Linked DNA regions of Homo sapiens: region 2 is linked to region 1. The links come from fine-mapping of genetic effects on gene expression. Tissue or cell type: whole blood. Region 1 holds a variant in brackets; the other region holds the start of a gene. All regions are shown on one strand. Distances are between the middles of the regions.

Region 1 (5,152 bases):
AGCTGCTGGAATATGTTTGAGACACAACTTCTCTAAAAGTGCATTAATTTCTTTCTTAACAGGGCACCTTCTTGCGTTTATATTATCCATCCCAAGATAATGATCGCCTTGACACCCTTTGGATCCCAAATAAAGAATATTTTTGGGGTCTTAGCAAATTTCTTGGAACACACTGGCTTATGGGCAACATTTTGAGGTTACTCTTTGGTAAGATTTCTGTTGATCCTTCTTTGTAGGCTCTTGCATGTATGAAAACCTTGAAAACAACAAGAACTTCAAGTAGTTAAGACCAAAGTAGATTTTTCTTCAGTCCAAATAGCTCCTAAAATGATAAGGAAAGTATTTCTTTAAAGCCCAGGCAACTACGACAGAATCAAGGTTCTCATTTTGTCCATTCTGAGTTGGATGGGAGTGGCCGAGAGTATCAGACTGACTCTGACATCTTTCTGTGGCTGCTCTTTAGTTTTCATCTGACATACCATGGAGAAGGCAATACCGTGGTGAGAATAGCAGGTTATTTGGTGTGGCCACTATCCCGCATGCTCTGTGCTAAAGTTAGACAAAAAGAGAAAGAAAGTAGAAGCCATCAAACTCTCCAGATCCAAAACAAAGGAGTCAAAGCTAATGCCTTTCTTGTCATACATGAAGAGACTCTACTCTCATTCCCATCACCTACCCCCATCGCTAAGACAATCTGATGTGTATTCTTCACTTACTGTCTACATTCTGCTAATATAGACTTTTCCTTCCTTATCTGTTTGACTAGACACTACTGTTGGACTGATGTTAACTGTGTCTTCACATTTACCCCTCAAAACGATCTACAAATTTTGGGATTCATCTTAAACATCGGCTTTTAATTTTCTTAAAAACCACTTATAACAGACATGAAAATAGCATAACTCTGCATATTTATGTTGCAAAATAATTTATAAATCACTTCCATAGCAATCATCACATTCAGTCTTTATGACTGCATCTGCATTTTATAGATGAGAAAATGAAACACAAATGATTGCTGATAATAATGGTGACAATAAAAATTGAGAAGTGAAAGAAGACAATATTTCCATTTTTTGAGCCCCTTACTATGTGATGGATTGCACCACTGCTTTACATATATTACCTAATTAAATAAAATTCTCACAAAAACCCTATGAAAGAGATATCATTTTCTGAAGTTTACAGAAGAGGAATCTGAAGTACAGAAAGTTTAAGGAACTTGCCCAAGATCCATAGTTAGGAAGTGGCAGAGCTGCATCCATGACTCAGTATGAAGTCAGTGGTTTCTCTACCTTTTCCTGCATGATTATGACCAAATCATAATGAACAGAGTCTCTGTTTCTTAGATTCTGGCTCTTAGTGTAATGTATCCAAGGTTTTATGGGTAGTTTGGTTTCAGAACATTCCCTTTAAAATTTTTCCAAAACCTGGGAATGGCAGTAAGTAGCAGCCTTTATGAATACACCTATAAGTGGGAAAATCTCTCACCTTAAGTCCAGAGCTGTCAGTAAGAACTCATCGTTAATGATCCTATGGTCTGAGGAAAGAACTTACGCCGGGTGCGGTGGCTCACGCCTGTAATCCCAGCACTTTGGGAGGCTGAGGCAGGTGGATCACCTGAGGTCGGGAGTTCACGACCAGCCTGACCAACATGGAGAAACCCCATCTCTACTAAAAATATAAAATTAGCCAGGCGTGGTGGCGCATGCTTGTAATCTCAGCTAATCGGGAGGCTGAGGCAGGAGAATCGCTTGAACCCGGGAGGCAGAGTTTGCAGTGAGCCGAGATTGTGCCATTGCACTCCAGCCTGGGCAACAAGAGCAAAACTCCATCTCAAAAAAAAAAAAAAAACTTACAGTTCAGCTCTTTGGTTGGTGGGTATCTAGTAGCAGTCTTTTTAATGAATCTACTATTCATCCATAAAAAAGTAGATATAAATCAGATGGGTCTGCATTTTATGCTAATGAGATATGAATTAAATTCACTAGCAACACTCAGAGAAAACCTTAACTATAACCTTCCATTGTTGTCTAGGTTCAATGACAACTCCTGCAAACTGGAATTCCCCTCTGAGGCCTGGTGAAAAATATCCACTTGTTGTTTTTTCTCATGGTCTTGGGGCATTCAGGTAATGTTTGAGAGGTTGAACAATTTTGGCTTCCAGGAATAAATGACAATTTTTTTATTCAAGAAAGAAATAGCAGAGTTTGGAATGTCATGCAGGCCCTTGTCTGGAGGAGTTGGGTTTCCTCAATAATTGGCTGTGGGTCTATTGATCAGTCCTAGACCTGTCTGGTCAAGTAGTTTTTTCCCTACTATCAGCTCATTGGGATTAGCCTCACAGCAGAGAAGAAAGGGTGTTGCATTTTCTATAGTTGTCCTTCATTATTGTAATATTTACACTCTTAAAATTATCCTCTGTAAAGTTTAGAACTTTTGAGAAACCAATTTTAGATTAGCTGGGAAAGACTGTTATTAAGAGAAATATCTGTGAAGGCAAGAGAAGGAGCAGGAAAAGATGGGGAGAACCTTTGGACCATGACACAGGTTGGACACCTGAAAAGGTGATGGGGAAGGGAGAAGGATTGGATAAGAAGAGCTTCAGAATGAAGCATGGTTCTAAGAAATATTGAGCCAGGCCAATGGAAGGAGTGCTGGACTATATTTGCTTATCAAGAGTCCTGTATCTCATAGGAATGGGCTAATGTTAGTACCCATGCTGTGCCAAGTCTCTGGGAGCAGCTCACTGGATGCTTAGCTTCCACTTGACCATGGTGATGGATACAGAGGGGCAGGAGCTGGATA[G/C]GGTCTTTAGTAAGCTATGCAGTCTGTAGCATGATAGCTGAGTGGCACATTTTCATAACAACAACCACCCTCTTCACTTTCTTCCACCACTTTCTCACCTGTCACCCCTCTTCTACTTCAAGGGATTGTAAAACTCAGAAAATAAGAGAGATGGCTTTTAGCTGGGAAGAAGTTGGGTAGCACTTGCAATAAAGAATTCTCTTCAGCACTGTAAATGTAGTTCAGCTAGCTATTTGATTTCTCCTACATTAGTGACTGGCAAATTAGAACCCAAGGGCCAAATCCAGCCCACTGCCTATTTCTATAAAGTTTTATTAGAACACAGCCACACCCATTCATTTTTGTACACTGTCTATGGCTACTTTTGTCCTACAACAGCAGAGTTCAGTAGTGGTGACAAAGACTATGGCCCACAAACCTGGAAATATTTACTCTCTGGCCTTCAACAGAAAAAGTTTGCTAATCCCTGTGCTATATCATTCCCCCCTCTTGAAAAGGTCCTGTATCTTCAGCAATAAATAAATAGTTTCTAGCTACCTCCTTTTTATTCTCTGTGGACATTTCCTATTGAATGCATGGTATGAGGAAAAGGTTGTGCAAATGAAGCTGTGGAAGAGGGCATAAATGCAGTGCTTAGCACATGATTTTTCAACTATTTCACCCAGTCCAATCATTTAAATAATAGCTAACATGTGTTAAGTATTTACCTGTTTCTAATATAAGTACTGAAAATGTATTAATTCAATTGATCCTCACTGATGAGGTAGCATACTATTATAGTGTCACCATTTTATAGATAAGGAACCAAGGCAGCAAAAATATTGTGACTTATTAAAGGTACACAGCTAACAAGTGGTAGAACCAGGGTTCAAACTCAGTGGTCAGACTGCAGGTCTCATTCTTGTAACTACAATACTGTACTGCTTTCCTATATACATTATCTTAGCAAAACCTTACAACTACCCTAAAACAAATGCTTTACTCTTAGGCCCATTTTACAGGTGAGGACAAAAATGCAGTAATTACCTAAAATCATATAGCTGGGAAGTGGCAGAGCCAAGATTAAAAACCCAAAACTCTCAAAGGCAATATTTATAATCACTGCCCTGGGTTTTCTCAACTTTAGTAGTCTTGACATTTTGGACCAGATAATCTCTTGTTGTGAAGGGTTGCCCTGTGCATTGTAGGATGCTTGACAGCATCCCTTTACCCACTAGACACCAGAAATACCCTCGCCCACATTCATGATAATGAAAATACCTCCAGACATTGTCAAATATCCCCTAAGGAACAAAATCACCCTCCTTTAAGAACCGTAGCTCTCCACTCCACCCCAGGGCACTACTACAGGGGTGTAATGGCCTCCATGTTCCCAGTTTTATTAGTGGACTCAGCCTTGTAATCATGACTGGTAGTTGTAATTCTTCCCTCTTTTTGTTTTGAAGGACACTTTATTCTGCTATTGGCATTGACCTGGCATCTCATGGGTTTATAGTTGCTGCTGTAGAACACAGGTATGTTACCTGATATAATTGGGCTCTTTGGCCAACTACAGGGAATGTCAATGCTCATAACTATGTTTCTAATTTTCATAAAAGTTTATTTAAAATGTTGATGGAACTTTCAAGTATGGTAACATCATGAGCAAAAAAGGAGATTGAGTTTATCGACTTAAAAGACTTAAAAGCACCTAACATTTCTAGAGTGTTTATTGCCTGCCATGTCCTATGCGAAATGTTTTTAATACGCCATTTCATTCAGTCTTCATAACAATCCTATGAGATGGTTATTATTATTATTGTTGTTGTTTTAAGGAAGAGGAATATAGAGGTGATAAAGGGTAATTTGCCCAAAGTCACACAACTAGTAAGTGGCAGTGCCGGGATTTGATTCCTGAGACTGAGTTTCAACATGGCTAACATTGCCTCCCAGAATTAGGAAGATAGAATGGATTGAGTTTACCTGCAACTTGATGATAGACAATAAGGTTTTTTTCCTGGAACTCTTTTACAGTCTTCTTTAATTTAAGAGAAAATATAGAGTGGAAGAAGAAAGGGAAGTCAAAAGATCAGAGGAAGTTGAGTCAAGGATGGAACTGAGAAACATGGGTCAGATGAGGAAGGGAAGGAGCATGCATAAATAATAATTTTGCTTGTATTATAGAGATAGATCTGCATCTGCAACTTACTATTTCAAGGACCAATCTGCTGCAGAAATAGGGGACAAGTCTTGGCTCTACCTTAGAACCCTGAAACAAGAGGAGGAGACACATATACGAAATGAGCAGGTACATTGCAGTGAAAGGAGAGGTGGTTGGTGACCTAAAAGCATGTACAAAAGGATG
Region 2 (5,152 bases), 21 kb before region 1:
CCTCAGTAAACACTATTCAAATTTAAAAAAAAACGTTGAGCGCATGGCAAGGCACAGTGGCTCACACCTGTAACCCTGGCACTTTGAGAGGCTGAGGCAGGAAGATCGCTTGAGCCTAGGAGTTCAAGACCAACCTGGGCAACATAGTGAGACACTGTCTCTACAAAAAATAAAAATAAAAAATTTAGCCAGGTGTGGTGATATGTGTCTGTGATCCTAGCTACTTGGGAAGCTGAGGTAGGAGGATTGCTTGAGCCTGGGAGGTAAAGGCGGCAGTGAGCTGTGATCATGCCACTGCACTTCAGCCTGAGTGACAGAGTGAGACCATATCTCCAGAAAAGAAAAAAAAAAGAAAGAAAGAAAAGAAAAGAAAAAGAAATTGAGCACATTATTACAATTTAATATCTTGATTGAAGGGAAGAGGTGAGACATCAGTTTCATTCATATTAAAGAGGAAATAGGTACTGTTATGTCAATGGGAAATGAGAGGAGGAATTAAATGTAGGAAACAGAATAACAAAGAACCAACTCATAAAAAACTAAAACAACCCATATCAGACACACCTTATAATCTGTATGTCTGTGTTGACTTATCCTCTTGGAATGTGAGGAATATTCTTTATTAATTTTACTTACTGGGTTGCCAGATATAATACAGGAAGCCCAGTTAAATCTGAATTTCAGATAAACAACAAATAACTTTTTAGTATATGTCCCAAATATTGCATGGGGCATATTTATACTAAAAAACTATTTATTGTTTATCTGACATTCAAATTTCACCAGATGTTCTGCATTTTTATTTGCTAAATCTGGGCACTCTTCACTGGGCATCTTCTCAGGGCACTAACCTGCCAAATGCCAACTGCTGTGGGGCTGCTCAGAGAATATGACCTAATGACAATGGGAGATGACATGTTGCTGGCAATGAGAGAAGTGAATAAAATGTTGCATACTTGTTTTCAGGAGCTGTTCTCAAAGCTTACCACCTTTTTAGTGTGGGATTAGGTCTTCAACTTCAACTTTGTCTTCACCTTTGTCTTAAGGTCAAAAGAAGACGTTAGAGATGTCTTTGGTAGGGCATAATGTATCCTTTTAGATTGATATTTGTGGGCCATTTGTTTTACAGGGGGTTAGTCCAGGAAGTACAAGACAATGTCATTAGGCGGATAGAGTTCCATTTAAATTAAAAATAAAATCTATTGTTAGGTTTAAATGAGTCACTGCTTCATTAAGCTATCAATATTAGATAACACATATTGAATGAATGTTTCCCATAGGCCAAGCTCTGTCCCAAGCATTTCACATGTATTTGCATTTCGTGCTCACAAACTGCCTCTGACTGACTGATTTTGATTTTCTTGATTTTATGGATGAGGAGACCGAGAAGCAGAGATGATGAACTTCCCCAAGGTCACACCACTCATAAGTGGGAGAAACAAGCTAAAATTCAGGCCATCTTACTGCAGAATACTCAAAATCAAAATAAGCAAAATTTCATCTCCAGTTCTGGCACCTCACCAAAAACCAAAACACGATTTAAAAATATAAAATTTTAATAACACCACACATAAATTTCAAACTACTTTCCCTAAGTTTCTAGCTGAAGTTTTAAATGAGTGTGTTTTTAATTTATTAGAAAGTGGATTGAAGAGAAAACATTGGAAGATGAAGGAAGGCGTTTCAGTTAAACCCCAAATAACTCTGTGTTACACTGAGCTATGAAACGGCTCCTTCTAGCTCCATTTCTCCTCAGACCTAAGTGCTATTCCTGATTGTCCTTCATTGTCATTTCCAGGGAGAAATGACACCAGCACAGTGGCAGGCCTTCCAATCTGGAGCACGGTCCACACAACTTCCGAATTGGTGTTCAGTGTAAAGTGTATCGGAGTGCGGAAAATGCGCAGGGCATTGCCAACTATAGATGCTCGGAGTAATTCAGTGTATTCAGAGAACACGGTGAAACAAGGAAAACCGGCCTGACTGGGGGGTGAATTCAGCAGGGAGTAAATCTGATCGGCATCAGGTCTGCGGAAAGGAGCTGGTGAGCACGACACCACCCAGGCATTGCCTGGCTCTCTCCGCGGCGGGCTAAGTTAACCGCGGGTCCAGGTGCGGGCCATGGTCTTGGGGAGGGTGCTGGGTGCGCTCGAGCAGGCTAGCGTCGGGAGCCGCCGCTGCTAGTGAGAGGCCGGGGCCACACACGCTCCTCCCCGGTACCTCCTCCAGCATCACCAGGGGAGGAGAGGGTCGGGGCCACAAGGCCGCGCTAGGCGGACCCAGGACACAGCCCGCGCGCAGCCCACCCGCCCGCCGCCTGCCAGAGCTGCTCGGCCCGCAGCCAGGGGGACAGCGGCTGGTCGGAGGCTCGCAGTGCTGTCGGCGAGAAGCAGTCGGGTTTGGAGCGCTTGGGTCGCGTTGGTGCGCGGTGGAACGCGCCCAGGGACCCCAGTTCCCGCGAGCAGCTCCGCGCCGCGCCTGAGTGAGGAGGGGCCCCGGGGGCGAGGCGGGAGTGGGAGGAAGGGCACGGTCGCCGCGCTGGAGGTCGGGACCCCGGAGCGGCGACCGGCCGGGGTGGGCTCGCTGAGTCGCACCCGCTCTGCTGGCCGGTCCTGGGCTCACAGTCCCTGCAGCCCTCGGAAACAGCGCTAGGATCCTTGCGGGGAGAGGGAGAGGATGACGGTATTAGACACCAGTTCTTCCAAACCTTTTCCCGAAAGGAAGCAACCCTAAGAGCTCAGAGCTGGGGGGAGAATCAGGACAGGCAGGGAACACATGGAGTTTTCTTTTCTTTTTTTTCTCTCTCTCTCTCTTTCTTTCGTTCCTTCTTTCTTTCTTTTGAGGCGGAGTCTCATTTTGTCGCCAGGCTGGAGTGCAGAGGCGCGATCTCGACTCACTGCAACCTCTGTCTCCCGGGTTCAAGCAATTCTCCTGCCTCAACTTCCCGAGTAGCTGGGACTGCTGGCGTGCCGTATCACGCTCGGCTAATTTTTTTGAATTTTTAGTAGAGACGGGGTTTCGCTGTGTTCGCCACAATGGTCTCGATCTCCTGACCTCGTGATTCGCCCGCCTCCGCCTCCCAAAATGCTGGGATTACAGGCATGAGCCACCGCGCCCGCCCCGGAGTTTTCTTATCTGTAGATCTCCTACAGGGACAATCTCTCTCTCCGTCTCTCTCTCTCTCTCTCTCTCTCTCTCTCTCTCTCTCTCTCTCTCTCTCTCTCTCTCTCTCTCTCTCTCTCTCTCACACACACACACACCACTACACACCTCTCACTCTGCCTCCTCTCTCTCTCTCCCTCCGCTCTCTCTCTCACACACCCTTCTCCCTCTCTCCCTCTCTCTCACTCTCCCTTTGAGGAGTATTGCGTTTTTGGAGCCCAGTTATGCGTGGCTGCTGTAAGAACAAAACAAAGCACTCTTTGTCCTACCTGGAGCATCCCCCTGCCGGCCAGATAAGATCACAGCTGTGTCACCAAGTCAAGGGAGAGGCTCATTTTTAAAAAATTAAGCAAAATCAGAAAACAGAGAACACTGTCTTCCTCATCATCTCCTGGAGCTTGTAAGAGAAATTTCTGTCACCAAAAACGAAAAGTTCGGGCTTTTATTCATGCCTGTGGTTCTTGGGATTACTGCAGTGGTGATGAGGAAGGAGAGGTGCGTATGGCTCATAAATGGCAGCTTGCCACCTTTAAAAGGCACACGGATTCAGATTTGGGATGTGTTAACAAATCAGGCTTGCACAAATTACTTTTGATCCAAATGAGAATGCTGAGCTGGGAGACTGGTATATGGGTAGGAGCTGGAAAATGTATCCCCTGAGGTGTTGGCAATCCCAAGAGGCTCAGCACGAAACCTTGAGCTTACATTGAATTCAGAGATCTGAGCATTAAGCACTGGCCTGATCAAGAAGAAGCAGATGGCCTTCTGGTCACGAGGCACTGGTGAGCCTCCATCACCCAGGCAGATTCCCTCACAGAGGAATTCTGCTGGCCCTGCAGAAAGTGGTGAGACAGCGCACCACCTTGGCATTTTCCAGCAGGCCTACTTCAGCTCCTTGCACTTGGGCACTGAAAGTGCTTTCCCCTCCCCAGATATTTGTGCACCAGAAGCTGCTGCTGGCCATGTGGTGATGTCTCAATGTCTTTCTTCATTGAACTGGGCCCTTCATACCCAAGGCTGGCACCATAGTCTGTGACTGCCTACTGTACAGCCAGCAAGACTGAAGGAGTTGCAGCATTAGGAGTGTTGTGAATCTGGTTCAGCCACTCATTTTACAGTTGAGAAATCCCTTCTGAGGTGTGGAAGGGCTTGCTTAGCACCGCAGGACTTTTCCCTCAGACAGAACCTGGGACAGCTGGGTCCTCATTTCCTCTCCATTGTGTCTCTGTCCCCTTTGCACTTTTGTTGTGAGGAACATACATGGGCCTAAACACATTCCCTCACTCTCACCTTTGCACATGAATATGACTTACCACACTCTTTGAAGCTCTGTCAGCACAGAACATTAAGAAAAGTGCTAACTGGGTACCTGAGCAGCTGGAGTGGGAGCCCCTGGGAAAGTCAGTTTAGGAGTCCCCTTTATCTTCCTTTTCCTGATACCCAAGAAGATGGCTATTTCCTGGAAAGGAAGGTGGATATTGGATTATTTACACTCTGATTCCTCTTAAGCCTAATTTTTTTTCAAGATTCGTGATAATAAGCCTGACTGACGTCTCAAGATGTTGAGAAATTTCCATAAAATAAAAGCATTGAAGAGAAAGTACTGAGTGAAGGGAAATTGAAGAGAAACATTCAGTTCTAAAATTGTATTGTTTCAGAATATGATTCTGGGTTCTTACTGACTTTCTTCATGACGCCAGCCACCTGTTAGACACATTATGTGCCCTCACTGTCATTTTGCTCAATTTTATGGGCGTGACTCAACACTAACAGAAACAGGCTAATACATACAAACATGTAGGTTTTTGGTTTTTAAAGAAACTTAGCAGTTGAGGAGAAATAAAAAGTCTATTGTAAGAGTAGATGCTCATTGAATTAAGTGGGCTAGTTGATTCCTAGTAGAACTTGTATTCATTCATTCATTCACTTCAAAAAATATTTATTGATCAGATCCTAAGTGCCAGGTACTGAGTACAGCACAGTTAGTAAG

The links. PIP is the estimated chance that this variant, and not a neighbour inherited with it, causes the effect.
Region 2: it holds the start of PLA2G7, and the variant in region 1 is fine-mapped to the expression of PLA2G7 in whole blood (TOPMed, PIP above 0.99).

The regions. Positions count from the first base shown.
Region 1 is chr6:46,711,439-46,716,590 of GRCh38, reverse strand. It overlaps PLA2G7 (phospholipase A2 group VII), which reads left to right. Exons shown (of 12, transcript NM_005084.4): 4 at 63-207; 5 at 2,038-2,131; 6 at 4,254-4,322; 7 at 4,972-5,095. Among named protein-coding and RNA genes, the nearest start is that of PLA2G7, 21 kb to the left of the region's middle. The variant G/C (reference allele first, on the strand shown) is at 2,809.
Region 2 is chr6:46,732,510-46,737,661 of GRCh38, reverse strand. It overlaps PLA2G7 (phospholipase A2 group VII), which reads left to right and starts at 2,287. Exons shown (of 12, transcript NM_005084.4): 1 at 2,287-2,482.